7 separate regions of the Homo sapiens genome follow, and all the other regions are reported to be linked to region 5. Evidence: microRNA targets listed by miRTarBase, many of them from high-throughput screens and not tested one by one. Region 5 holds a microRNA gene; each other region holds the end of a gene's coding sequence.
Evidence for each region. Region 5 holds the annotated microRNA hsa-miR-33a-3p (CAAUGUUUCCACAGUGCAUCAC, at 2,729-2,750, shown strand). A microRNA usually pairs through its seed, bases 2 to 8, with sites in the 3' UTR of a target mRNA and lowers its output. Matches are read on the target gene's strand: a 7mer-m8 pairs with bases 2 to 8, a 7mer-A1 pairs with bases 2 to 7 and ends in A, and an 8mer does both.

Region 1 (4,078 bases), not on the chromosome of region 5:
GATCGAGTTGCAGTAAGTTGACGATTGAATATACCCTGAGCATATGGCAAAGGATGAATAGGGATGGGAGATTCTCAAACGTGGCTGAGCATTAAACTCATATTTAGAGTTAAGGAAAAATGAACTCCAAAGTTTCTTCCCTAGAGATTTTTATTTGTTGATCTGCAGAGAAAAAAAAAATGTGTATTTTTACAAACTCTTCAGATGTCCTGTGTTCAGTTTGGATTCTCTGGAAAGCAGACACCAAGAGGGAGTGAAAATGGGAAGGGAGGAATACATGTGTGGGTGGGGAAGAATACATGTGTGAGAGAAAATGGGAAGGGAGCTGGAGAAGGCTGGAGGAGCTGACAGACTGCTATGCAAGTCTATACCAATAAAGGCAGGAGGGAGGATGGTTGGAAGTGTCTCAGAGCACTCTGCAGGTTTAGCAAGCTTGTCAGGGAGTCCTCAAACTGAAGTTGGCCATGTGAGGAGTTCTGTGTCTTTCAGGAATAGGCCTGCCTCAGTATCCCTGCAACACTCAGTCATTAGCTAGAACAGCCTGATCTTGGCACAAACATTGTGATGGATTTCAGAATGCAGCAGCTGGGGACTTTTGGACAATTAAATGCCCCATAGTTGGAAGTCTTTGAGGCACATTCTCCTGGCTGCCACATATACCCTGCCATTTTAAGACAATGAAATGAGGGGAAAAAAATCCAAACGGGCTGTAGCTGGACAGGTTTTTGGGCCCAAGGCAAAGTTTCATGTTGCTTTTTAGATGGGAAAGATTTCAGTGTTTGTAAGCCTAGAGAAAGGAATCTGCACAGTGGGAGAACTTAAAGATAAAGAAGAGGGATAGCCAGAGGGAGGCAGAAAAGGAGAAGGAGAATGGGAAAGAATGAATTGTAAAAGACAAACACTCCAGAAAAGGCAGGAAGAAATGGGATCCAAAGGTTATGGCTTTGAATTTAAGGCATGACATCTTATTCTCTGGGACAGTGTCTGGATATGGGTTAAGGTCAAAGGTTGTAGGGAATTGAAAGGAATTGCGTTTAGTTATCTTAATTTCTGACACAAAATAGGAGTCAAAGTATTAGGAGTCTTGGTAGAAGGTTTGGTCTTGAAGAGGAGATATCCCGTCTTCTGAGGCTGAAGCTAGAGTCAAGGTTGGATGCAGAGAAAGACTGTTTTGTAGATGTAGGATCAAGTTAAGAGAGAGGAAGCCTGATGGCCTCAATATTAAAAAAATATATTTATTTCTTTTTTTTGAGACAGGGTAAATTTTTTTGAGACAGTGGCACAATCATGGCTTACTGCAGCCTCGACCTCTCAGGCTCCAGTGATCCTCCCACCACAGCCTCCTAAGTAGCTGAAACTACAGGCATGTGCCCCCACACCCAGCTAATTATTTGTATTTATTGTAGAGACAGGGTTTTACCTTGTTGCCCAGGATGGTCTGGAACCCCTGGGCTCATGAAATGTGCCCTCCTCGGCCACACAAAGTGCTAGGATTACAGATGTGAGGCACCGCATCTGGCTAGCCTCAATTTTTTTAATGAAGTAGGAGGCAAGGTTATCCATTGAAGGTATTATTTATTTGCAGCTCATCTTAAGTGACAAAATTCCATACAGAAGACTATAACAGAAATCATATTTAATATATTAAAATTAATACTTCAAATATCTTTCACATTAAGATGATTATCTATTGTGTAAATCTTTCCTAGGTATGTGTGTCTGTTTCTTGATGTGTAAACCAAAACTCTGAAATATTCTCTTGATCTAACTTTGACTTTTAAAAACTGACATTGTACTGAATTTACATAATTCTCAATCAGAAAAAAAATTACTGTCAGACTGCAATGCAAGTCTGCCCCAATGAAGGCAGGAGGAGGGATGGCTGGAAGTGTCTCAGGGCACTCTGAAAGTTTAGCAAGCTTATCAAGGAGTCCTCAAACTAAAGCTGGCCAAAAACTTCAGCATAAAAACTATCCTGTCTGTGTATTATATATATTTATTACCAAATTTAATAAACAAAAACCACTTTTGAACCAGGTAATTTTATCTAGTGTGAAAAGAAATTAATCACATGGTCATATACTGGCTAGTGCTCTCTAAAAGTAGACATTAAAATATTTCATAATTGGAGGGAATCTTTGGAGATTAGTGGCATCTAATCTTGGGGCCTCAGACACCCAAAATCTATATATTGACCAGTGGAAGTTGATGATTTGTTATCAAATTTCAAAGCACCTAATGGAAACCCCACTTCATCTCTGTGAAGATTTTCAGTTCCTTTACAGTTATTTGAAATTATTTCAATTCTGTGGAGCCACTTCAGAAACTCCAATGGGCCTTTGCAATATTAAAATGTGGAGAATGCATTAATCATTATTTAATCAATGAGTTTAAAAAATAGACAAAAGCTTCTGAAACATGGGACTGAAGTAGGCGGAGCATTATAAAAGCCTAAGGTAATTGGTAGTGAAGAGTTGGAAAAACTTACTTAGTCTAATATTGTAATTTACAGATAAGGAAACTGAGAAGATAAATAATTTATTCAATATCACTCGATGGTTCATTAGTAGAAGAGCCAGCATTATGATGTACTCATTTTGTACTCTAGGAGTTGTTAAAAAGCACTTAATATCTTCTTTTCTTGGGTGTTAGCATTTTTCATTTTTTAAATCATGCTATTTAGTGTTCTTAACATTTGAAACCCAAATGGTTCACATTTTGTTTTTGGATTGCTTTGGGAATGAGTATGTACTGTTAGAGAAGGGCCCAATCCAAACACTAGAATTTTAATAATTTCTACTCCCTCTGCTGGCCAACTTTCCAGTAAAATGGATTTTAAAAAAAGAGAAAAAAAAATCTAGCGGTAATTGAAACAAAAACAAAAACTTTAAAAAGTGTCTTCATTATAAAGAGGTGCCATGCATAAAAGCCTAGGTAGTTTCAAGGTCCATTCTTCCATTCCTCATGATTTTAGGGTTATCCTCATTCAGATCTACTCTAGTTATAATAGTACTTTAAACAGAGCACAGAATTAAACCATTAGTATGTGAATCTGCAAAAAGAGAACTTGTTTTAGACTCTTCTACAGTTTAGACTTCAATGTGCATACTAAATGCATAACATTCGTATCAAATAATTAACATTTATATACAATTAACAAATAAGGACAAATTTTATACAAAACTTCTACTACTGCTATAATTTTTGAAAACATTTAACCCACTAGCAAGAGGTAAGACAGCACTGCCTTTTTAAAAGACAGGTCACTTGAATAGAGAATATAAGATATAACCATAAGTAGAAGTATAAACAATAATTTTTCTTCTTGTGGAATGTTTTTAAATTTCCTTTCTTATATTATTATTCTTCCTTAGGTTTTTTTAGACAGGTCATTTCTTCCTGAATGATTTTCCTTTTTCTTTTATTTTTATTTTTTGAAGGAGGATTATTTACTGGTGGTCTAAAAGAAGTACCTTCAACTTCTTCATAATTGTAGCCAAAGCGGAAATGGAATATTTAATAATTCTTACATCTCACTAATGTAGTCTTCTGAGTTAACAATTAAGCAGAGAGATTATTTTCTATGTTCAAACTTTAAACACTTTGTAAAGATAATTGGGATTTCATAACAAATGATAATAAGTGGTTTTGTGCATTAATTTTCTTGATACCCAATAACATGCCAATTAAAATCCAGACTTCACATTGGCACCTAATGAACACAGCAGAATGACCAAAGTTGAGTGCTAGTCATTGTCATAGATGCAGCCTGAAAGGAAAAAATACAAATTTAAATATAGTTATTAAAAACATATTCTCTAAGTATTCCAAGTTTGGAAATGTGGGTGATTCATACTCTCCTGGTTAAGGATTAAAAAAAATAGAACTGGCTCACTTTATAAAAAATGAGTTAAATGGAAGATCATATATTTAACTTTTATTATTTAGTATATAATTCAACAAAATTTCTGGACAGATTTATTCTCTATTAAAATGAGACTCAAGATTATTTTATGTGGCACTTAGTCATATACTTTTTGGTAGTCACTCTGAACGAGGTTGAAGATATTAAAGAGCA
Region 2 (4,000 bases), not on the chromosome of region 5:
AAGCTGAAATATTTATAACAGCAGAACCCCACAATAAAATACGATAGAACTTCTTGGCAACAGTTTATTGCTCAGTTAACTATTTTGAAGCATTTCTGATAATTAGCTTGTGGGTAAATTAGATTTTGCAAAAAGTTTGCAAAATACTCTTGATTCTTGAAGAGGTGAGGTTATTGAGAAAGAGTATTTTGACCCAAGATTTATGTGAAAGCTTGAATGTCATTTTAGTAAGATGGTTTCCTTGGCTGTCTACGTCAAGAGCTTATTTAGCGTAAAAACATTGAGTTGTACTGCGCATCAGTTTTTTTCATTCTGTTGACCAATAAATACTTTCAGGACCATAATCCCTTCTTGGCTTAGGCATCTCAGGTGTCAAGGATGATAGAAGTCCTTTGCCTGCGTTTAATACCAATTGTAGCAAGTAGAAGAGTCTTTATGCTTGGAATGACACCTTTGTTTGTGGCTGCCATAGCCTAATGTAGTCAATACGAAATAATTGACTTTTTTTCTTTTTTAACAGGTGAAGAGCAGAATAAAGAAGCGCTGCAGGACGTGGAAGACGAAAATCAGTGAGACATAAGCCAACAAGAGAAACCATCTCTGACCACCCCCTCCTCCCCATCCCACCCTTTGGAAACTCCCCATTGTCACTGAGAACCACCAAATCTGACTTTTACATTTGGTCTCAGAATTTAGGTTCCTGCCCTGTTGGTTTTTTTTTTTTTTTTTTAAACAGTTTTCAAAAGTTCTTAAAGGCAAGAGTGAATTTCTGTGGATTTTACTGGTCCCAGCTTTTAGGTTCTTTAAGACACTAACAGGACTACATAGAGGCTTTTTCAGCATTACTGTGTCGTCTCCGTGCCAGATGTGGCAAGATCACCATTAGCAAATGGAAATTACATTTGAAAGCCATTAGACTTATAGGTGATGCAAGCATCTAAGAGAGAGGTTAATCACACTATAGAGGCATAAGTGGTATCAGTTTTCATTTTTCTAATTGTTTAAACTGTGTTTTATACCAGTGTTTGCAAGTAATTGGGTGTTAGCTTGAGATGGTTAAAGGTGGTTTGGGGAGGGACTTCGTTGTAATGGTTTTGCTGTAAAAAATGTTTCCAACTCCGCTGAAATGTTGCTGAAAAGCATGGTGCTGGTAACAGTTCAACAATCCGTGGCTGCTCATTCTTGCCTACTTTACTCTCCCACTGAAGCAGGTTAGCGTTGAAGGTGGTATGGAAAAGCCTGCATGCCTGTTCAATTCTTTTGTTTCTTCTCCTTCCCCCTCCCCCTACCTCCTTCCCCTCACTCCTCCCCTCCTTCGCTCGCTCAACCTCTTTTGTTCAGTATGTGTAACTTGAAGCTAATTTGTACTACTGGATATCTGACTGGAGCCACAGATACAGAATCTGTATTGTTCTTACTGAAACACAGCATGGAATTAACATTAAACTTAAATAAAACAAACCTAAATTAAAAATGCCAAATATCGCGCCTCCATCCTTTATACTTCTAAAATAAAATCTCTAGTCCAAACACACTGACAGTATTATGTTTGCCTGAATGTGAAACATTCCTCCTTTTTTCTTCCATAAATAATTTGTTTGCTTCCCAAAGATGTATGTTTTGGAAAAAAATTGCCTGTAGTCTGGTTGTGAAGAACACTGAGTCAGTTGATGGTGTGTCTTGTCCTCCAGACCAGGCAGCAACATGGTATTTATTTTAATCATTAAAGTACAACATGAGTAGTACAAGGTGTAATTATGGATCATTTTCTAGCATAGTATTTCATACAACCAAATAAGGCTGAATGTCTTATAATAATTCTTAGAGGTAAAAACTGTGTGCCCTCTTCCTCCAGAGGCTAGTGGCAGTAGTGGAGAATTACTCAATCCTTTCTTAGTAATCCATACACACATTATAGACAGCAGGATAGCAGTCTCCCTTTCCAGAAACACTGTATAAGAAGCTTCTTTCCATAAACAGTTTATACATCAATGTGTATAGATACCTAGTTACTGTAGATCTTTTTATGTTAGGCATTCAGATGTGTCTCATTCTGACTGCGTAACATTGATGTACACCTGATTTTGTTAAGACCAGTTTGCTCCTTTTGGGCAGGTGCTGCAGGAAATACCCTTGGAACAGTTTTTGCTTAAATATTTGTATGTATCTGGAAGGTACATTTCTAGATTCCCTGTGTCAGTAAACATTTTTCAGTTGATAAATCCTTCCTCGTCACACTTGTCTTCTAAAATTGGATGTTGAGACTGCAAGTTTACTCTCGGTTTAAAGTGTTAGTAGCAGAGATTTAGGAAATGAACAGATCAGCGATATCCTAGTAGCGTTTAGTGAGTGCTGGCAATGAGAATAAACATGTTTTTGTGAGTTGCTTTTCCGAGAGATAGGGAGACCATTGAATATAATTATATGCTGCTGTTTGGAGCAACCTCCAAGAAGCTTTCAAGTTGATTTGCTCTGTTTCCAGCACACCTGCTACACTTAAAGGTCAAAATCCAAGGAATTCGTCAAGTCTGTTGCAGAGTTTAAAGAAACCACTCGGCTGGGTGCGGTGGCTCACACCTGTAATCCCTGCAATTTGAGAGGCCGAGGCGGGCGGATCACGAGGTCAGGAGATTGAGACCATCCTGGCTAACACGGTGAAACTCCGTCTCTACTAAAAGTACAAAAAATTAGCCAGGCATGGTGGCGCACGCCTGTACTCCCAGCTACTCGGGAGGCTGAGGCAGGAGAATCGCTTGAACCCGGGAGGCAGAGGTTGCAGTGAGCCGAGATCACGCTACTGCACTCCAGCCTGGGCGACAGAGTGAGACTGTCTCAAAAAAAAAAAAAAGGAAAGATCCTTATCAAAAATTGAAAGGCCGGGTGCGGTGGCTCACGCCTGTAATCCCAGCACTTTCGGAGGCCGTGGTGGGTGGATCACGAGGTCAGCAGTTAAGAGACCAGCCTGGACAACATGGGGAAACCCTGTCTCTACTAAAAATACAAAAAAATTAGCCAGGCGTGGTGGCGGGCGACCTTGCTGGGTGTAATTAACATCCAGTGACTTGGGAGGCCTGAGGCAGGACAATCGCTGGAAACTGGAAGGCGGAGCTTGCAGTGAGCCAAGATCGCGCCACTGCACTCTAATCTGGGCAATAAGAGCAGAACTCCGTCTCAAAAAAAAAAAAAAAAAAAAAAAATTGAAAGGGAGCCAGGGAAGCTGCAGAAAGGTGCCGTAGCCCTGTGAGGACGGTGTCACTCCCAGTTCCTGTATTTGTGGGCTGGAAAGGGAATTGCCCCCAAACTTTTCTGGTTTTGATTTGAGTCTTACTTTGAGGATCAGTCGACTTAAGTAGAAGTTTTTAGTTAGTTACAACTTGAATGTAGCTAATATGTGTTTTTAATTACAAATCTCAGTACTTTGCTGCCTTGGAAAACCCAAAGGCTTCCTACAATGTTAGAAGCGACAGTAAGTGGGTTTGTGTACATGCTCTGTTCCGGGTGGGTCCTCAGAACAGCACGTCTGCAAAGTTAAATTTCGGTCCTATAGGAAGATGGGGATGAACTTCCATCACTGAAAGGGGAAACTGGTGGGATAAATGGAGACATTAATTGGCTTCTGTCCCAGACAAATGCCTTGAGCCTTATAAATGAGACCCCAAATTAGCTGCTTCCTGATCCTAGGACAATAGAGGAGAGTGAGGCTTGCTGAAAAAGCGGGATAAAGGTGTGACCCCTGTGTTCTTTTGAAAATTGTAACAAGTAATAGTTCATGGAAAACTGGTGAAATCCTAGAGTGTGTCATTAAAGGAAGCCTTTGTGAGCACTGTGAGAGGAAATGGGAATGCTCCCAGATCCAACCTGGATCAGGAAAACCAAGCCCTGTGTTGTTTTATCCTGTTTCTTTGAGTTCGTAGGATTGTAATAGATACTGTTAATATTTAGCTAACATTGGCCGGGCGCGGTGGCTCACGCCTGTAATCCCAGCACTTTGGGAGGCCGA
Region 3 (4,078 bases), not on the chromosome of region 5:
ATTCCTGTCCCCTTTGCCCCTCCCTCAGTTTGTGTTTCTGACTTCTGGCCAGAGGCTGTACTTCCCAGACTGTCAGAATGGCCACCCTGCAGACTGCAACCCTTTGAGAAATAAAGCTCTCCTTTCCAATTTTTAAAAATAAAAAAACCTGATGGTAAAGGAATGAAGCTGCTTTTGTTCTAATCTGCATTTCCCAAAAATGATTTGACAATATATTTTGTTTGGAGATGGAGTCTCACTCTGTTGCCCAGGCTGGAGTGTAGTGGCACAATCTCGGCTCACTGCAACCTCTGCCTCCCAGGTACAAGCAATTCTCCTGCCTCAGCCTCCCAATAGCTGGGATTACAGGCACCCGCCAACACGCCCAGCTAATTTTTGTATTTTTGGTAGAGATGGGGTTTCACCATGTTGGCTGGGCTGGTCTCAAACTCCTGACCTCAGGTGATCCACCCACCTGGGCCTCCCAAAGTGCTGGGATTACAGGTGTGAGCCACTGCACCCGGCTGACAATGAAGATTTTACAAATACCTTCTAAATTCATTTTGGGAAAGGCTAGTTTCAGCCCTTTCCAAATGTAACTCGTCTCCTCTGGGGAGCCCTCTCAAATTGCTTTAACTTACTCATCTCCCCTTCCTGTCTTGCAGCCTTTGATCATATAGGAACCCATGTGTCATGTTCTGAACCAGTCAGTCTCTAAGGCAGGTGCATAGAGCAGCTGTGTCCAGCTTGCCCTGGAAAGAACAAGTACCATGTGGCAGAAGAATAGGGACGGCCTTGCCAGGCTCTGCGGCCTAGCCCTGGTGGGTTTCCCAGAGATGACTGTGTGAGGAAGGGTGGTATGATTTGGCAGTTTCTCTCAGCTACAGCTCCAAATAGGCTCTAGAAGAGCATCACTCACTGTGGTCACTGTGTCTTCCCCTTACAAAGGGCAGTGAAGGTCTATGGTTCCAACTACAAAAAACAAAAATTAATATCCTATTCCCAGAGTACTATGCAAGCACTTTCAGCGTCATTCTCAGGGCACCATCCAAGCAGACAGGGCCTATTACCAACCCTTACTTATGTAACAGAAGTAACGTCACACTACTTCAGTACCCTGGGCATATCCACCCTCAGCTGGACCTCAGAGCAACTCATCTTGGGCTAGAGTTGGGGACCCAGAGCAAGCAGGTCTTAGTATTTGTGCCTGCACTTGACCTGCCTCTAACCTGGAGGTAATGGCTTGTGTTCCCCTTCTGCCACAAGCAATCCCAACAGCTCAAGCCAACCTTCCAACTAGTCATGTGGGGCCTTTTTGGCAGGCTCCTGGCTACACAATACTCACTCACACCATTGTGCACTGGAATAATTTTTATTTTTTTCCTTGGCAAAAAGTCAAGTGCTACATTTTTAAAAACAGAAAATCTCAAACAATCAAACGCATTACCCATTACAGAAGAGGGTCTAGCAATAGTACAAAACATCCTACTGAAGATTTTTTTTTTAAATATACAAGTCAGTTTAAAATGATAGAAGTTCTGTGAGAACTAAGAAATCTACAGCCTGTAGTTTAATAATAGAAAAAAAATTAAGACAATTAAAAGATCTATAGCATCCAGCATTTTGCTTAATTCCCTGTTTATAGCACCTATTTCTCTAGGTTCGAAGATGAGAATTCCAGAACCTGTGGTATGTGCTGTGTAACAAGTTAGGGTGGACTTGCTGTCTCTCCTCTCCAGTAGCCCCCCACCATTAAAAGGAGAATATATATATAATTTTTTTTCCAATTTCCCTTCTTACACCCAGAGAAGAGGGGGACAACTGGGAGAACAAGTTAAAAAACTGGGGTGCAGGAATAAATATGACTTTTCCTTTCCCCAAAATGGGATGTTGACAGAAAAGCAGAGTATGTGCTTAGAGGAACTGGTGGGTGGGAACAGCTGTTATCTTTGACATGATGTGTAAAAATCAGGGAACAAGTGGACATCACAGTCAGCTGCCTGCAAGTTTAAAAACCTCAGACTAAACAGACAGTTCAAGGGAGGAACAGACAAATTACTAATCACATTGATGCTGTCACATGCACAATGATGCTGACTGCAGGCCAGCCTGTCACCATCTCAGGGCTAAGCCAACAGAGTAGGAGGGGTGGCTTCAACCCCAAGTCCCACTGCAGTAAGAAAATGAATATTCCACACATGAAGCACTCACTACACACAGATAAACCCCCTGCTCACCCCCACCTTCTTAGACTTAACCCAATTTAGAAAATAATAGCAAAACCCACTGGGGAGATTGGAAGAATGGCAGAGAGGATTCTCCTCAAAGCCATGGGGGCTATGGATGTGAATCTTAGCAGACTTGAGACTCCCAGCTCCAGGCCCCTTAAAACCAGATCAGGTCTTGAGGGGAAGGAGAGAGAAGCTAGGATGGGGATTCAAGTCCCATGAAGCCTTTTGTAGCCTCTGGAGCTGCACCTGGATGGTGAGTCTGATGTTTTAGGGGTGTGGCTACTGGCTAAGCAGATGTGAGGGTGGGAAGGGGAAGTGACACCAACTTCCCACACGGGGGACACACAGGTGGGAAGACAGGTAGGGCTGGATCACTTTGCAGTCCTGGCATGGGAGGCCCCAGGAAGCCTACAATCTAACTAAAAAGATTTTCCCAGTGGTAATTTCTTTTCCTTTCTGTTTTTACTTCCTATTATCAGTGTTGTTAGACTTAAAAAACAAGATACAGACTAGTCCCAAAGCTGGACTCTGTGAATAAAGTTGTTTCTTTTATAAATATTTTAATTACAAGTAATCCTCACTCCAGGTAATTTCAGTGACACACAGTACCTACAGGCACACAAGATCACACACACACACGCAGACAAGATCTCTCTCTCACACACACACAGACACACACAGCTCCCAAACTTTCACAGAAAGTCTGAGAGCAACCATGTAATTATAAAGGAGCCCTACCTCTCAAGAGTGAAGTAAGGGTGAGCTATGTCATTTCAGCCTGAAGAAGCCAGAGACAGGAGAATGTGTGTCACTTAAAGAAAAATAGGGATTAGCAACAATGTTTGGTTGAAAAGCCAGAAATAATAAAAGATAGTAAAATTTTGATTACCAAAGGGGAAAACAAAAAGCAAAACAACTTTCAGATTTCTGTACAGAGCTTCTTCCTATTAAGTGCCTAAACTATAGGCAAACTTTGGTGTTCCCACTAAAACACAAGAGCCTCACACAATTAGGAAAAAAAAAATCAAAAGAAACAAGGAAACTGAGAATGGAAGTTAGTGTAAATCTCTGCATTTGGGGAGTTGTCATTAACTCCAGAGCCCAGCATAGTTTCCATGGAGCCCTGAAGGGAGGGGACCTCCTGCCACAAAGAGTTTCGTTCCAGACGAGTCGTAGCAGTGGGTGTAAACAGCATTGGGGAAGAAGTCAATGTCTGAAAAGTAATTCCTCCAGGTTTCATCATGATTCTACGGGAAGAGAAAGAGACTACAATTAGCACCTCTAGCCATGGGGCAGGAAAAGGGGGAGGAAGGGACAGGAATGCTTTCTGGTCTCCTTAAGGGAACAGGGTTCTACAGGTACAACCTCATGTCAGGAGATTGGCTGGTTGGTTCTCATGGGAATCAGGGCCTCATTTTTCCAACTAAACGTTAGAGAAGAACGGAGCAGCTGAAGAATTGCTATACAAGGCTCAGTTCTTCTCAGGAGACTTAGAACCAAAGTTCTGTTTTCCCTCCACCTGCTAGGCACAGGAGGAAGAACCAAACACTTGAATAATTCACTGGAGGTGGGGCGCAGTGGTTCATGGCTGTAATCCCAGAATTTTAGGAGGCCAAGGTGAGAGAATCACTTGAGCCCAGGAGTTTGAGACCAGCCTGGGCAACATGGCGAGACCCCATCTCTACTAAAAAAAAATAAATTAGCCGGGCACAGTGCATATGCCTGTGGTCCCAGCTACTTGGGAGGCTGAGGCAGGAGGACTGCTTGAGCCCAGGAGTTCAAGGCTACATACAGTAAGCTATGATCACACCACTACACTCCAGCCTGGGCAACAGAGTGACCCTGTCTCAAAAAAAAAAAAAAAAAAA
Region 4 (4,078 bases), not on the chromosome of region 5:
AGTGTAGTCTTGGGAGAAAAACTAAAATGATATGAAAGAATCACAATCTAGAATTGCAAAGCCTCTAAGGTCCTCAACAAGGTAAGCCCTGTTTTAGAACATCAGGTAAAAGGAAAAGAGTAAAACAGAATTCCTAAGCAAACAATCTCAGTTCATCTGGACCTTCTTTTTTACAGCCACTTTAATTAAAAAGACAAAAGACAAAGGTAAGTTATTTCTAATTAAATACTGAGATGAGCATAATCCACACTTACTGCCAATCAAGGTATTTCTAAAGGATTTATTATTTGTGATTTGCTCATTTATTTCAACCAGCCTTCCCCCCCAAGCTCCTACTCTTTTTCCTTTAAAAAATCCTATTCATTTAAAAACTCCTATTCAATGTGCTTCAAAGTCTCCTTATTTTGTTAGAAAAATCTGTCAGCTCCTGTACAAATTTGCCTTGTAGGTTACCATTGAATCACACCCATAGCAGCCAAACTGCTATTACAAAAACGAATGCTGCAAACTGAATGGTTACAATCAAAGGGGGCAGTTATAATTCAGGGCCAAATAGCTGTATTATCCTAAAATTTTTGCTACTTTAAATAGAAATTTATGGGATAGTTGAATAGCTTTCTAAATTAAGGGATATATCAAGTCCTTGAATTTCTAAGTATTTTTTCTAACTTTCTTCAAATGAAACTTGTAAAGGATAAATGAAGGGTGTTTTATGTTGAAAATTTTACGTTCAGTAATAAAGAGTATTACCAACTAAAATAAAATTTTAAAAATGGATACTTGCAGGTTTCTAGAGTCAACAATGCATTAATAGTAAGAACAGTATTTAAAACAAACAGACTTGTCTTATTTTTAAATAAAGTGATACTTTTATTTTTCCCATATTCCCTTATACTTATTGAATTTATATAGCCTCTATCTTCCAAGGAACTTAGAATGTTTTATAAGCTTATAGACTTAAGAATATTAGGGCTGCAAAACATTAATTAGTTGTCAAATAATAACAATTTTTTATCTTAAGAATAAGGTGTTCTTTTAATTGACTTTTTTATTTCCATATTTTGGAGAACAGGAAGGAGTGATGTGATGGAAAACAAAGCAGTAGCAATTGGAAAGTCCAAACAAGAGAATAAGTAGGGGGATGAAAAAGAAGCAATAAATTATAACTTCAAAGAAGCCATCTACCTAACAGGGAAAACTTGGCTTCACTTTATCAGATTCATCATTGCTTCAAAGAGTTGATGAGAAAAGCTAGACTAATGAATCTACTGCTTCCCTGGTTCTTAGATAAAGCTCCACTTTAAACTGTTAGATTATCATGTGATGAAGAAACAATTCTTCTCAATAGAGGCTCTATCAATATTATAATTTGTTTCCTACAATATCAGAAGACTTACTAAGTCCATCAACAGTTTACTAAGATAGTGGTCACTATTTTTGACAGATTAGTATCTCATTGTTCTTACCAAATAATGGCAACCAGACAGTTTAGGAATTTCTGATGAACACTTAAACTGTTTGATGGAATTTTAAGTGCCAAATATTTAGCTTTTTCTGAGGTAATTATAGGATCTGAAATATAACCCTTAAATAATAAATACTATATTTCACAAAACAAGCCTGATGGAATTTAAGGAATTACAGCTTTGTATTCTGACTATATATTCTAACCTATAAAAAGGAAGATTTACTTATTTTTAGCCCTACTTTGAAAATTTCTGAATTTAATTCAAAGAAGGAATCAGCAAAGATTTCTAGAACCTAAAATACTATCTGATCCTATTTTATTTATAAAAATATGAAAATGTAGATTTTATTTCAAACATAAAGCACTGAAGGACATAACCAGTTCAAAGGAAAAGCAAGCCCTAAGACTTACTGATGCAAGTTTACCTAATACTTTCAGTTAAGCAATAATGGCTACATTTAAATCACTTGATAAAAGAGCCTGAAGACTGATTAATGGAATTTACTTTTCAGATTAAATGACAGATAATAAACTGAAAAAATAATAAAAGCCTTGTATATTATGGATGTATCAATTAATGATTGCCTGTATTTACACCTAAATGTGATTTATTCTTCACAAAGGTGTATATACTTACATTATGAACAGCTTAGCTAAAATCAAAATATCCTCAAATTCTTAAACACTGAACTGAAGATAAGAACCTATAAATACTTGAGACACGTGTTTACAGATGTAGACATTTATCTGTGGTTATTTCCTCAAGTTCATATTCAACCATGTCAAGTCAACTTTTTAAACATATTAGCTGGGTCTCTGATAAACTAAAGAACATTTATGTTCCACTTTAAATGTTTTTTTGAAAATATCCTCAAGAAAATCTAAGTTTCAATTTACATTAAGACATTGAGAAATATTTTTTAAATTATATTTTATATCTTTTATTTCAGAATATTGTCTTTAAGACACTTTATCTTTATATTTATTTGCATTACATTTGTTTCAAATTCTGCTCTAAAAATCCACAGAACAATTTCAAACAGAGTTTTATTAAGTAAATACTATTTTTCTAGACCAACAATAACTTCATTAGCCTTGAAAAAGCCCCAAACTGGGAACTGTTTATTGTGCAGAACGCTTAGCTTTTACCAACTTCATTATGTTCTTACAAAACTGTTTCATAAATAGCATTAACTTTGGGACCATACAGTCACATGAATACTCAAACTCTCCATTTAAATACTAAAAGGATCCACCATTTCAAAACGATCTCCCAAGTCTATTTATATTAGACATTGCTACAGTTTGATTCTCAGCTATGTTAAGTAATAATTATCATCGGAACCAAGACCATTGAATACTCCTGCCCTTCATCCTTTTTTCAAAGCAAACTTGCACACACTGTAATTCTTTTAAGAATCTTTATTTTTTTTTTTTTTAACAATTCAGTCGGTTGGATCTCGATGCAGTTTATTAAAAAAAAATCAGTACATTTTCATATAAACTGCAATCAAAAAAGTAATTTACTTTGTCAAAGAAGTTATGAAGTTGCAAGTTATTTTTTGTAATATGCAGAACAGTAAAATGTAAGCATGCTCTTGGATGCAGGTGCTCCTGTGCACCATGGAGTTATTTTGAAGAGCCTGCTAACGTCTGCAGGCAGTTTATAGGATGCAATTATTTTCTCCACAACTTAGGTACATGAGAATAAAACTGATATTTATGAATAAAGTATTTTTCTCGAAAAAGTTGAGGCAGCTTTTGTTGAATGCTATCTGTGTGGGTACACTTGCTACACCTTGAACTGTACTGAGAGAGAGACAGACAGCAAGAAGCCCATGTTCATGCTGAAACCTGAAAAATCCCTCCATACGTGTTGAGGAGTTCCAAGAAAAAGAAGAGGGTAAAACACTATACACAACTGTTCATCGTCTTACATTAACAGAACACACCGAGAAACTTTACATAACAAGGAAGCAAATCCCCTTCACTGCTTTTAGTCAAAGTCCGTTGTATCTATAGTGGAGGATGAAAGTGGAGCAAGCCTAGTAGGGATAAAGCTTAAGTCTACATCTCATGCAGAGTTGTCCTTGGTCTGTCCTCTAATATTTCTCAGACATCCGAGTTAGAACTGAGGTTCGTTAATCTGGGGTCCGCATTGATTTCATATCTGTAATGATACCCTTCCATGTGATCCCTGCAGGCATCTCTGATGTTATGCATCCACTTTTTTATCCCCTTGCGGTTCAAATACAAAACCAGGAGGAAAATAGCGCCTATCAGGGCTAAAACAATACCCAGGAAGACATAAGAGGTTTGCAGGGATGGGGGAAGAATCGGGTCACAGTCCAGGTCAGCACTGTTGAGTTCCAAGAGGACCCGATTCCTCATTTTTTCCGGATATGCACAGGTGAGCCGGTCTTTGCCCTGCACTACCTCTGTTTCCTTGAGCCAGGTCACCATGTCTGCCATGTGGCAGTCGCAGACCCAGGGATTGTTGTCCAGGAAAACCCTAATGTGGGGTAGACCTTGCAACTCAGCCAGGGTGCCATTGTGAAGGACCTTGAGGGCATTGTCCTCCAGGTGGAGGCTTTCTAGATGTGTCAGGTT
Region 5 (4,078 bases):
CCGCCACCATGCCCAGCTAATTTTTTTGTGTATTTTTAGTAGAGAGGGGGTTTCACCATGTTGGCCAGGCTGGTCTCAAACTCCTGACCTCAGGTGATCCACCTGCCTCAGCCTCCCAAAATGCTGGGATTACAGGCGTGAGCCACCGCGGCCAACCAGGAATGAACATTTTTAAGGCTCTTGATATATATTGCCAAACACTTTCCAAGATTGTGCTGGTCTATTCCCCTCCCCCAGAATCCTGGGTGTGGGAGCCCAGAGGCTGCTGGCCCGTTCCCAGCAGGCAAAGATGTTACCCATCTCCTAGGAAGGAAGTGTAGCAGCCTCTGAGCGCCACAGGTCTCGTTTCTGTGGGTGCTGGAGTGCGTTTGGTGCTGTTCTCCTCTAGGTCCAGACATCATCTGTCGGTGGTGGACGTCTGCAATCACTGTGGCCATCAGCTGGCTCCAGGGAGACGATGCAGCTGTGCGCTCTCATTTTACCAAAGTGGAACGCATCCCCAAGGCCCTGGAAGTGACAGAGTGCGTAACCCTCCTTGGCCACTCACTTGCTTCTCTCCAGGGGAATCTTGTTTGAGTTAGCAGGAGCAAACTGGACTGGGTGGGCGTGTTGGGGTGAAGGGTCAGGACTGCATGACAGGTGGGCGGCTAGAAAAGTCGGGGGTGAGGGCACCATGGAGAACTCAAGTTGGGCCAGCAGGTCCTCTGTGCAAGTGTCCTGCTCTGCACAACACGACAGTTGTCCCAGCAGCTGTCAGCACTGTGTCCGGGTCCTCCTCCCTGCAGCCTTCATGGCGCCACAGGCTGAAAAGAAGAGACGAGAGCAGTGTGGCCCCCAGCATCTTCAGAAGCTTTGTGGTGGAGGCAGGCACTGGTGGTTCACAATCAGTGCAGAGAGGCCACTGTTGCCCCCAAAACTCATGTGCACTGGAGCATCTTGCCCCTGTGTGCTAGCATTTTATCCACTTTCCTTCCAGCCACCTCCACCCCCACCATCAACCCTGGCAACTTTGTCCTGTAACTAAAATAGCCTTTAGCACATGGCATAACCGGAGAGCTTTTGACATTCCTCTTTGGAGATTCATGTCTGCGTCTTGGGGGCATTCGGCACTAGTGATGGGCAGCCCTGCCTGCTGACTCCCCGGCTGTTTCTAATTGGATCTGAGTATTCTAAGAGAAACTGTAAAATGCTCCAAGACAGAAAGGCCCCACGAGGTCCTATCCTTAGAGCCAAGGCTGTAGCATTTCCTATCAAGCAGACCCTTAACCGGCGCACAGGAAGGAGCTGAGAAGAGTGAGTATACACAGGCTTGAAGTCCTTTGTTCCCTGAAGTAGATGTGACACCCTAATTTCATTGAAGTAGCCCCATTTGTAAGCACTCTGACTAGGTAAGCACCCAGCCCGGTATAGCATTCCACCTGTATGTGTGTCTCCCCCAGTCGATGTGCCTGAGGACACTGAGACTCAGCAGGTAAGTTGTCCAAAGTCACCTCGCTCCAGAGCAGCAGAGCTTCCATGGACAGCCAAGACACCCCTGCAGGCACTGCTGCCTGCTGGATTCACTTACCCCTGGGTCCCTCTGCTTTTCAGGGACTAGGATGCTATGAGAACCCTCCCCCATCCCTAGCCTCCCCTTCCACTCCCAGTCTCCTCTACAGAAAGAAGCTAACTAAGTATCTCCAGAGAGTTTAATACCACATCTCTGGGGGGGTGGTCCCTTAAAGAACGGGTACAACACCTTATTGTGGCCACTTTATAGGTAAGGAAACTGAGGCACACGTTGGAATGACTATCTTGGGTGGCTTCTTAGCAGCAGACGTGATGGTGAAGCCTGTGTCTCTGACTTCCAGCATTGAATGAAGGTGCTAAAGGGTGGGGCGCTAACCCTAGCTCAGGGCTGGCATTTCAGATCTGGAGCTGGTGGCATGGTGCCATAGTGGCAGCATTGGAGTCAACAGATGCACATGTCATATCAGTGTGGGGCGTGGCAGTCACTGGCTTGGGCCCCTCTGCCTGTCACGCAGGTGACACATAGTGACCTGCCTCTCGACTCCCTGTCACTGCTGCAGGAGCCCCCTGGTGAAGGCCATCTTCCATGCCTGCAGAGCCATGCATGCCTCACTCCCTGGGAAAGCAGATGGGCAGCAGAGTTCCTTCTGCCATTGCGAGAGGGCCAGTGGCCACCTATGGAGCAGCCTCAACGTCAGTGGGGCCACCTCTGACCCTGCCCTCAACCACGTGAGTGGGAGCTGAGTTGGCCCCTGGGGGAGGTGCTCTGCACTGGTTTACGAGAACACTCCCACTCACCTCATGCTGACCCTGCGGGTGGGGCCATCCGAAAGACAGAGAAACCAGGACAGCAGCCCCCTTTCAAAAAAGTTACGGCTTATTGGCCTAGGTGGACTCCTTTTTCATCCCTTTTCAGCCTCTGAGGCAAGTGTGTTTCTACCTGCACCTTTCTTAGGCTCCCAGAGTCCCAGGTCCTGCTGGCCCATAGCCTCTGTAAGCCCAGGTGCACCCCAGCTGGCCAGGGGTTCACCTGCATTTGCTCCAGCGGTTTGCGTGACTTCCCAGGCCTCTGCAGGCAGCCTTGGAGTGGGTTCCTGCCCCCTCGGGCACACAAACAGAGCTGAAGACCACCCTGGGCACCTCCTTGGCTGGCCGCATACCTCCTGGCGGGCAGCTGTGGTGCATTGTAGTTGCATTGCATGTTCTGGTGGTACCCATGCAATGTTTCCACAGTGCATCACAGAGGCCTGCCTGGCCCTCGAGAGACTGCCCTGACTGAAGGCCCTATCAGGTGGGGGAGGGGATCCTGATAGAGGGCACTGCTGCCACTGTTGGGGCCCAAGTCACAGCCATCCCAGGAAACAGGAGGGCACCCAGCTGAAAGTGGAGCATCACCTGGTCTACGGGGAACATGTCCTTAGCTCCAGAGTGGGAGGGACCGGGAGAGTCCTGGAGATTCAGATTCTCAGCCACTCCCTGGGGCTTGGTCTTAGCTGGCTAGGCTAGTACTTCAAGCTAGATATTGTCAGTGGACCTGGGCACTGGGATGAACCCAGGACAGCGTGGCAGCCCCTACAGGGACAGGCAATGTGCAGAAAAGGCCCAAACTGGCTGGACGCGGTGGCTCACACCTGTAATCCCAGCACTTTGGGAAGCTGAGGTGGGCAGATCACCTGAGGTCAGGAGTTCGAGACCAGCCTGACCAACATGGTGAAACCCCGTTTGTACTAAAAATACAAAAATAAGCCAGGTGTGGTGGCATGTATCTGTAATCCCAGCTACTCAGGAGGCTGAGGCAGAAGAATCACTTGAACCCAGGAGGTAGAGGTTGCAGTGAGTCGAGATTGCACCACTGCACTCCAGCCTGGGCAACAGAGCGAGACTCCATCTTTAAAAAAAAGCTGGTGGGGGTGCCCAAATGCCCTGGGCTGCCAAGACCAAAGGCAGATGGTGAGCCACATTTCACCTTCTCTTTTGGGCTTTCCATTAGTCTCTTCCGTATTTGTCTTCATGAGAGAACCAAACAGTACAGGCTCAGTTTGGGGAATGAGAGGCTTGCAGCCACCCTTTGGACTGGGGTTCCTTGGTAGCAGCTCTGTGGTAGGAAAGTGAGCCTAGAAGACAACGCCATGCAGCCTGATGGCCCTCGGAGGGCAGAATCCAGACATAGGCCTGCTGCCTCCATGCCCACAGGTGCTTCTGCAGCATGCACAGCTTAGAAGTGCCAGGTTTTGAGGAGAGGGATCCTTTTCCACATCCCCTTGAAGCACACAACAGCCAGAAAACAGTGTAGGCAAGGATCAAGGCCTTGTGCAGGGACAGGGCAGGGTCTTCCTCAGGCCCAGTGTCCTGGGAAGGAGGAAAGCCAGGGCTGGGTGAGATGAGGCTCAGCCTGAGGGAGTTCATCAGGACCGGAGGGCTGCTTGCGGCCCATCTCAACAAGGACTCCTCACTGCTCGGTGTCGTGCAGGTGTGCCACTGCGAGCCGGGTGGGCAGCCCAGCCCCATAGGTCGTAGGCAGAGAGTATGCATGGCCCACATGCAGTACCTTCTCATATGATACAACAGC
Region 6 (4,072 bases), not on the chromosome of region 5:
GCTCCTTCTATAGTGAGGAGGCTGTTTAGGAGTCAAGAAACCACTGATTTCTACTTTTCAAAGAGAGAGGGAAATGGAAACAGGCACAAGGCGCTGGGGACTCCATGGCAAGGAAAACAGAGGGAGCCTCGGGACCACACTGATGCTTTCTGCCGATCTGCCTCTTATCCATTCACCTGACTCCACCAAATTAACAGTACTTCCAAATCTCAAATACATTCCTGCCTACTCAGTGCTGTCAGCAGAGTCCTGACCAATGCTAGCCCTTCCCCACACAGCTAGAGTCCTCGGGCTTTGGGAGCAGCCGGTCTCAATGGGCTTACTGACTCCTCTTCGCTCAAAATCACATCAGAGAAGGGTGGCAAAAAGGGGCACAATGCAATGCCACTAGCCTCCAGGGGCTTGGAAGGGCAGGACTCACTGATGCTAGACCAAGGGCCAGGGTACCTCCCTCCCCTCCAGATCCCATCAAACTGCTTTGCCTCTCTCCCAGGGCCTGTGCTGGGGTGAGGAGATTACCTACTATCACACTCACCTTCACCTTTCCGATTCTGGCCTATTTGGCCAGAATCCAGGTTCTACTCCATGTCAGCAGACAACCCAACACTCTACTGAGTGTAAGTTTAAACAAAACTGAGAAGAGGGCACTCAAAAAAAATGACCAGTTCTTCAAAAGAAGCACATTTTTGCTAAGCGGCAGTGATGGAAAGGAAAAGCTGCCTGGGACCGGTGGAGAGGAAACAGCAGAATCTATGCAGAATGGGAACCTGCACCTTTTCTGTCTCTCTATTCACAGGATGGGGATGAGGGGCAGAAACATCTGGGGATCTCAGGTTCTAATGCTGGCTCTGGAAAGATGCTCCAGGGAGGCGACTGCCAAGTCCCAGAACCAGGGCTCACAGGCAGTGCTCAGGATGAAGCTGCCACGGGGAACCCTAATGTTAAGTAGGCACAAGAAACAGTGGGTCTCTCATCCAAGCTGGGTGCAGGATAAAACCTGGGAGGAGCTAGTGAGGAAAGAACATGTTTGTGGCTCAAGATTTCAATTTTCTTTAAAGTTTCTTTCAGAGGTTAGTTGCTGTCAAGTTTGAGTTAATTTAAACTTGGTTTTTAAATATATAAATACTAAAGAGAAGTCTAAGTTCATGCTTGTAAAATTGGGTTGAGTATAAGCCAGAGGCCATAAAGCACAGCCAAAAAGCCTTGGGGGTGCAGGAGCCTCCATGCCTGGGCCCTGCCCTCACTCAGGCCATTCAGAAGCCACGTGCCAAGCAGGCGCAGTGGCTCACGCCTGTAATCCCAGCACTTTGAGAGGCTGAGGCGGGCGGATCACTTGAGATCAGGAGTTCCAGACCAGCCTGGCCAACACGGTGAAACCTCATGTCTACTAAAAACACAAAATTCGCCAGGCGTGGTGGTGCACGCCTGTAATCCCAGCTACTCAGGAGGCTGAGGCAGGAGAATCACTTGAACCCAGGAGGCGGAAGTCACAGTGAGTTGAGGTCACACCATTGTACTCCAGCCTGGGTGACAGAGCGAGACGGTGTCTCAAAAAAAAAAAAAAAAAAAAAAAAACAAGAAAAAGAAGCTGTGTGCCCACAGCAGAGATGGTGACCACAAGGAAGAGCTTCATTTGAAGTGCCAAAACTATGGGAATGAGGGTCAAATAGCCCCTTCCCCAAGACATTTATTGCACATATTAATGGGAAATGCTCGTGTTCAGTCCCTCCCCGATTCTGGAAAATACATCCACCTAACAATCAGGCTCTCCCTGCACATCCGTGCACACCACACGTGGGGCTATGAGCTGAGGCCGTCCTGAGAAGCCTGCCCTCCCCTGAGGAGAAACAGCCTGCTTCTGACTCCATGCCACACTGCCTGAAATTGTACCCTAAAAAGGGATTCTCAGCTACTCAGGAGGCTGAGGTGGGAGAATCACTTAAACTCAGGAGTTCGAGGCCAGCCTGGGCAACATAGTGAGACCCCCATCTCTAGAAAAAAAAAAAAATTAAAAACGGATTCCTTTGGATCAAGAAATCTACTCACCCTGCCTCCTTTGGAAAGCAGACTCCAGGGAGAGAACGTCTGACACTCACATCTTACTGTAGGTTATGTTGGCTCGGAGGAGTTATGGGAAATGTGACTAACGGAGAAGGAAAGGGCAATTTTGGACCACATGGCACTGCCATGGGAGGAGCCCCAGGTGAGGTTCTGTCAGTGGCACCCCGGGAGACACAAAGGCACCTGGAGGAGGGGCCGGGAAGGGGAATTGGCAAAGAAGGCAACAAACTGCCTCCTGGGTGGCTCTGCCCGGCTCCGCGTTAGCTCCTCTCTGCACATCCTCATTACACAGAGACACAGACGGCACACCAGGAAAACAGGAACCCAGAACCCAAAGGGGTCTCCATGGCTCCTCCCAAGCCACAAGCGTTGCCAGGTGGTGCTGATGTCCCAGACTTTGTCCAGAGAGTGAAGAAATCATTCCAATATTAGGTGTTAGATCCTTCTTTCTTCAAACGGAACATCCAAAAAGTTGGCTTCTGATATCCTTGAGCCCCAAAACACCACTCATCCCACCCTCCCCACTCTCCTACAACCCAGGTCAGGCTGGGAGCCTTTTCCATAGGAGGTGATGTGGGCAAATCTTGGGGACCCTGTAGTTCCCCTCCAAGATTATCTTGCTCTGCCTTTCCTCAACCCAGAAGCTCCAGGAACACCTTGGGACCCTCAGAAGAAAGACATCAAAGAGAGAGAACCCAACTCTGAAAAACGTCCAGCAGACAGGACTGTGGGAGGCCAACACAAGCTCCTTATGAACAAAGGAGGTGGGAAGCTGCTGCAGGGACCACACTCGCCCGCTGGGCCTGCTGATGCCACAGGCCCACCTCCTGCCAGCCCTGCATCCTGCTTCCTGCCCTTTGCTGTCCCCCGACCCCTCGTGATGTCTCCACCCCAGCTCCTGTTATAAGGGCTCAGCATTCATTAATAGTAGAAAGAAACATGAACAGACAACTGGGAGATGAGCAAGAGAGTGAGAGACACAGCAGGGACATGGGCGGGGAGCAGGGGGAGTGCTGGGGAGGAGAGAGCCATCCCCATCTCAGCTTCCTTCCCCAGGGGAGTAGAGTCCTTAGCTTCCTCTCACCAACCAAGTCTCCATCCAGCTCCGTCCTCTGGGGAGGACATGCCCTTCACTCAAAACACCAAGTAGGAGCTTCTCAGCCCCCTCCCCCCGGCTTCTCCTGAGAGACACCCCATGATTCTCTGCCCCTGGCTGACACAAGAGAAGACAAAGAGGGCACAGGTGAGATGCTGATTGGTGAGACCTCCCTCAGGGAAGACGAGGAGGAGGTAGGAGGGCCAAGAAGGACCAGAGAGTCTCCACCTTGGCTTAGCCTGGGAGGCGCTGCCATCTAAGGTGATGTTTTCTCAGAGATCACAGCCAGATCTCCATGTGGTCGGGGTGGGCGTGAGGTGAGCCCCTCCTCAGACCCCATCTCCTTGAGGAGCTCAGGCTCTTGGAATTCAGTATACACACAGATCGGGAAACTTCATTTCATAGACGGGGATGGAGTGGTTCTGCGGCTGACCGTAGGCTGCAGTGATGGTTCCTGATGGGCTTGGTGGGGGCCTAGGGGGCAGGAACACATGGGGAGAAAGGCATGAAAAGAGAATTTTAGGATCCCACCCTTGTGCAACCAAACAGAGTAGGTGACTTGGGTTTCTTTTTGCACAGGCACCAGAGACCCCTTCATTCCACAGGTTCCCAGGATTCCACGTTCTACTAGAATCTACAGCTTGGAGTCAAGCTTCCCTGCAGGCTCCGCAGTGACACTGCTGCTTTAGAAAGTGCCAGCCCGGAACACTAGGACTCTTGCGTCTTTCCAGGTTTCATTGAGGCAGGCTCTTTCCCTCTCTGGTCTCTATTTCCTTGTCTAGGGAGGGTTAGAGTTGGTGGCTGACTCCAGCCCAGGGGATAGAGATTACAGTGGTAGAAGGAGGTGGGGAGGAGAGAAGAGAAGACAGGGGTGAGAGGACTCAGGATGAGGAACCCCAATACTGGGCCACGGAG
Region 7 (4,078 bases), not on the chromosome of region 5:
TGGCTGAACTGGAGAATGTCCTAACAAACCCCCTTCCAGAATGGCTTTAGTCTCTAGTGCTTGCTAGCATGGGAGCTTTGTCTTGAATTCCTTTTGATCTGCCCCGTTTCTCTCCAGCCTTAGGAATAAATCTAGAGGCTATTGTGCAATGATCTGTGGGCTTTTTAGAAGTCTCTAAATTTCCTTGAAATTCAGTACAGCCCAGCATAAACTACTCAAGTTCTTGATCAGCCTGCTGCTTTGTTCTTATTAATAAAAGCAGTGTGTAGCTGGCTAAGGACTTGTTTTATTAATGCTCCACAGGAGCAGAGACAGACAGAGAGACATAGTGAGCCTTGAACCAAACACCTGTATTCCAACATTTTACACAGCGGTCTGGGCACCCTGTGCCTAGGAGAGCCAGCTACGTGTCTACCTGAGTCTGACCTGGGCCAGGGGCTGTTATCTTGGGAAAGCCAGAATGTCATTAAGAAAGGGACAAATAGGCAGTTGCTTGTGTAGCAAGGCAGCCACCAGGTTGCTCAAAGGGGGTTCTGCATAAACCAACATATTTTGTTGTTGCTTCCAGGGCAGCAGAAGAAGCCTTTGTAAATGACATTGACGAGTCGTCCCCAGGCACTGAGTGGGAACGGGTGGCCCGGCTGTGTGACTTTAACCCCAAGTCTAGCAAGCAGGCCAAAGATGTCTCCCGCATGCGCTCAGTCCTCATCTCCCTCAAGCAGGCCCCGCTGGTGCACTGAAGAGCCACCCTGTGGAAACACTACATCTGCAATATCTTAATCCTACTCAGTGAAGCTCTTCACAGTCATTGGATTAATTATGTTGAGTTCTTTTGGACCAAACCTTTTTGTCTTTAGAGTTGTTCATTGTTTGTGATTGCATGTTTCCTTCCTTCAACTGTGTTCTCCCTGGCATTCAGAGAGGAGGGAGAGGAGGAAGAGGAAGGGGAGGGAAGCTTCCCAAGAGTAGCCTCAACCTGTGCTTCTGTGCATTATTCTGAGAATAAATTTCTGTTTCAAACTGTATTATGTGAAGCTTCTTTATTGACCTCAAGATGTGTTGTAGTTTGGAGTGAGGTTGGAAGGAATTTCCAGGAGGAATTTCCTTGAAATTTCTAGGGCTGAGGAGGCACAGCCACTGGGCACACAGCCCTGCCTTGAACTAAGATAGCACCGGGATCTAGAGTGGGATCCTGTGGACATTTTCATTTGAGAAGGGAGTTTAGTGGCTGAAGGTTAACCCCCTCATTATCTACCTAAGACACAGCTGTGAATCCTCTCACCAACCTAGTCGTTTTCTCCCAGATGGGCTCTTGCTTGCCAGTGTCCCTCAGTTTAGGGTCTTGGATAGTATATTTCGGCAGGAGTCTGTGGGGCACGTAGACTCTAGTAAGACCTTGACTCCTTTGGATCCGGCCAGTAAGCCTGAGTCAGGACGGCATTCATGTGTGGCTAGCCCCATTACTGTTGAGTCCTGTAGCACATGTTGGGTTCTGTGCCATCCCAAGCACTTGGTTCATATTTCTCTTGTAAAATCCTTCATCTAGACCTGTGCTGTCCAGTGCAGTATTCACCAGGCCCATGTGGCTATTTAAATGAATTTAAAATACATTTCTAGTCCTAGTCACAATTCATGTGCTCAGTAGCCATATGTGGTTAGGTGGCACTCGGATAGCACAGGTTATAGAACATGTCCATGGTCGCAGAAAGCTGCACTGGACCATGCTGATCTACCACAGGTGTTTCCAGGAGCCCGTGCTTTGTTCAGACACCAGTAAGTTCATTATCTGTCTTCAGAACCTGGCATAGTACCTGGCTCGTTTTAGGTGATGTTCCAAGCAATTATTAAAGCTATATTTCAGTAATCTGCTTATAACTACCTGGTACTTCCAAACTGGAGATTGAGGTAAACTGTAATACTATGCTCAGGATGGGGGTTAGGTGTTGCCATTGCCAAGAAGGAAAGGCCACTATCTCTTCAATGTTAATTATTTTTGGCTGGAAGGAGCTTTCATTACTTTTCCTGCTACCTCCCCGTTTCCAAGCTTAGTTGGGCTTTCCTTGACCTGGCCCACATTTCTGGCCTCTGCTTATTCCTCCCCCTTTAGTCAAATCTTATTACAATCAAGCAATCATTGTTCCCAGACTTTTGTTCCTACGGGACCTGCTAATCCCATTCCAAATGTCAAAATCCAATTTAAGAACTAGTTCAAAGGCCACCCCCCTTCCCCTGAACTCCCATGGCCATCTACCTGGGGCAGCTTATTTTTGGTAGTCTTGGTGCCATCGTCTGGACCAGTCTTGCCTCCCACACCAGCTGGGCTTCTTGAGGTGGGAGGTGGCAATTTTAAATGTCAACAAAATCTGTGACATTCTCTAGATGGAGAGGTGACTGAATAATGTGACAAAAGTGATGCTGGGATGACTTCCAAGGCTAGGTCATAAAAGGCAGTGCTGCTGATGGTTGATTTGTTGGAGCAACTAGCTGGTGGCCCTGAGCCGCCTCATAAAAAATTCTACCTTTGAAGCTACCCATGTGGTGAGGAAGCCCAAACTAGCCCACAGAGAGGCCACCTGAGAGACCCTGTAACCACACACATTGGGAGATGCCTGGCCAGCCAGCCTCGTGCTATTCCAGCTGACAACTACAAGTGCAGGATACTCTTGAGCTACAACTGTCAAGTTTGAGCCTTTCCCAAATCCTGACCCACAGAAACCACGACGTGAAACAATTACTGTTGTTTTAAGCTCTTCAGTTTTGAGGTTACACAGCAATAGTAATTTGGGATTGTTTCTAATGCCTGTATGAGACCCACATAGGGCCTCATAAAAAGAGGGAGTGGGTCTAGGGACTCAGTAAATGCTTAACACTTAGTTTCAAACCTCTTTCTTGGGGGCTACTTTGCTTTTTTATGCCAAATTTTCAATGTTATATATAGCAATGTTTTGTTTTTGTTGTTTTTGAGACAGGGTCTCACTGTGTCGCCCAGGCTAGAGTGCAATGGCATGATCATAACTAACTTACTGCAGCCTCCACTTCCCGGGCTCAGGTGATCCTCCCACCTCAGCCTCCTGAGTAGCTGAGACTGCACCATGCCTGGCTAATTTTTTTTGTATTGTTTTGTAGAGATGGGGTTTTGGCATGTTGCCCAGGCTGGTCTCGAACTCTAGGGTTCAAGCAATCTTTCTGCCTCAGCCTCCCAAAGTGCTGGGATTACAGGCATGAGGCACCATGCCCAGCCATGCTTTCTATTAATAGACTTTTTTTGGTTAAGAAAGCAATGATATTAGAGGCCTTAAGGAAGTTATATAACCTTCAAAACGTAAGCAGTGCAACAATTAAATCTCTTCTGGGAAGGAAAATGCTTTTGGCTAATGAGTTACGAACAAAACAAAATACAACAGGATTTCAACAAGGAAATGTATTTATTTTTTCTTTAGAATTTGGCTCAGAACAGTAACAAAAATATTTACATTAAAATAAATTAACATGCAATTACTTAACCATATGTAATAATTTACGTTGGAATATATTAGCCTTCCCATGAGTTTAATAAAAACTAATATTTGGTTTTAGATTCAATACCATCCTTTCAAATATTTGGTATGAAACTTGGTAGCAATGCAATTGTCTGATGTACAGAGCAGATTTCACCATGAGAGATTACACCAAAGAACAGATGTCCCTTCCCAGAACATTATCTCACCCCAGACTCAGAAACTGAGCAGCCAAGCTTCCTTCCCAGGAATCACCATGGAATGTCTGAACAATAACCAGGCCCTGGAGATTACTGCAGGGCTGGCAGAGTTTTAGGAATCAGCCAAACTCTTTTTCACACTAACCCACTAGGAAGGATATAGTTCAAATGTAATGTTGAGTCCTTCAGTTTATTTGAACACTGAAACAATATGTTGTAGAAACCTTCATTTTCCCAAAATAGAAATCTGAAAGATATATGCACATGATTTCTTAGATCATCTAAAAGTACCCATAAAAACCTGTCACTAGGGCCAGGTGTGATGGCTTACACCTGTAATCCCAGCACTTTGGGAGGCAGAGGCGGGCGGATCACCTGAGG

Region 1: the mRNA of FYB1 is a reported target of hsa-miR-33a-3p. Seed matches in the 3' UTR shown: 7mer-m8 at 3,332-3,338.
Region 2: the mRNA of YWHAE is a reported target of hsa-miR-33a-3p. Seed matches in the 3' UTR shown: 7mer-A1 at 1,438-1,444 and 7mer-m8 at 1,563-1,569.
Region 3: the mRNA of DCAF12 is a reported target of hsa-miR-33a-3p. Seed matches in the 3' UTR shown: 7mer-m8 at 3,048-3,054.
Region 4: miRTarBase lists TPBG as a target of hsa-miR-33a-3p. The part of its 3' UTR that is shown has no 7-base or 8-base seed match.
Region 6: miRTarBase lists EFR3B as a target of hsa-miR-33a-3p. Seed matches in the 3' UTR shown: 7mer-A1 at 937-943.
Region 7: the mRNA of CLTA is a reported target of hsa-miR-33a-3p. The part of its 3' UTR that is shown has no 7-base or 8-base seed match.

Annotation. Positions count from the first base shown.
Region 1 is chr5:39,103,697-39,107,774 of GRCh38, forward strand. FYB1 (FYN binding protein 1) reads right to left here. Exons shown (of 19, transcript NM_001465.6): 19 at 1,556-3,769. The coding sequence ends at 3,747. Among named protein-coding and RNA genes, the nearest start is that of RICTOR, 31 kb to the left of the region's middle.
Region 2 is chr17:1,342,020-1,346,019 of GRCh38, reverse strand. YWHAE (tyrosine 3-monooxygenase/tryptophan 5-monooxygenase activation protein epsilon) reads left to right here. Exons shown (of 6, transcript NM_006761.5): 6 at 521-1,745. The coding sequence ends at 573. Among named protein-coding and RNA genes, the nearest start is that of YWHAE, 56 kb to the left of the region's middle.
Region 3 is chr9:34,085,052-34,089,129 of GRCh38, forward strand. DCAF12 (DDB1 and CUL4 associated factor 12) reads right to left here. Exons shown (of 9, transcript NM_015397.4): 9 at 1,336-3,457. The coding sequence ends at 3,299. Among named protein-coding and RNA genes, the nearest start is that of UBAP2, 38 kb to the left of the region's middle.
Region 4 is chr6:82,365,727-82,369,804 of GRCh38, reverse strand. TPBG (trophoblast glycoprotein) reads right to left here. Exons shown (of 2, transcript NM_001376922.1): 2 at 2,385-4,078. The coding sequence ends at 3,581. Among named protein-coding and RNA genes, the nearest start is that of TPBG, 3.9 kb to the right of the region's middle. RefSeq lists an enhancer at 3,574-4,078.
Region 5 is chr22:41,898,261-41,902,338 of GRCh38, forward strand. MIR33A (microRNA 33a) reads left to right here and starts at 2,684; the gene lies at 2,684-2,752. It overlaps SREBF2 (sterol regulatory element binding transcription factor 2), which reads left to right. Exons shown (of 19, transcript NM_004599.4): 15 at 389-521; 16 at 2,070-2,238.
Region 6 is chr2:25,153,794-25,157,865 of GRCh38, reverse strand. EFR3B (EFR3 homolog B) reads right to left here. Exons shown (of 23, transcript NM_014971.2): 23 at 1-3,631. The coding sequence ends at 3,526. Among named protein-coding and RNA genes, the nearest start is that of POMC, 13 kb to the left of the region's middle.
Region 7 is chr9:36,211,035-36,215,112 of GRCh38, forward strand. CLTA (clathrin light chain A) reads left to right here. Exons shown (of 5, transcript NM_001833.4): 5 at 569-1,025. The coding sequence ends at 740. It overlaps GNE (glucosamine (UDP-N-acetyl)-2-epimerase/N-acetylmannosamine kinase), which reads right to left. Exons shown (of 12, transcript NM_005476.7): 12 at 3,407-4,078. LOC124902151 (a long non-coding RNA gene) reads right to left here and starts at 2,977. Exons shown (of 2, transcript XR_007061474.1): 1 at 2,252-2,977.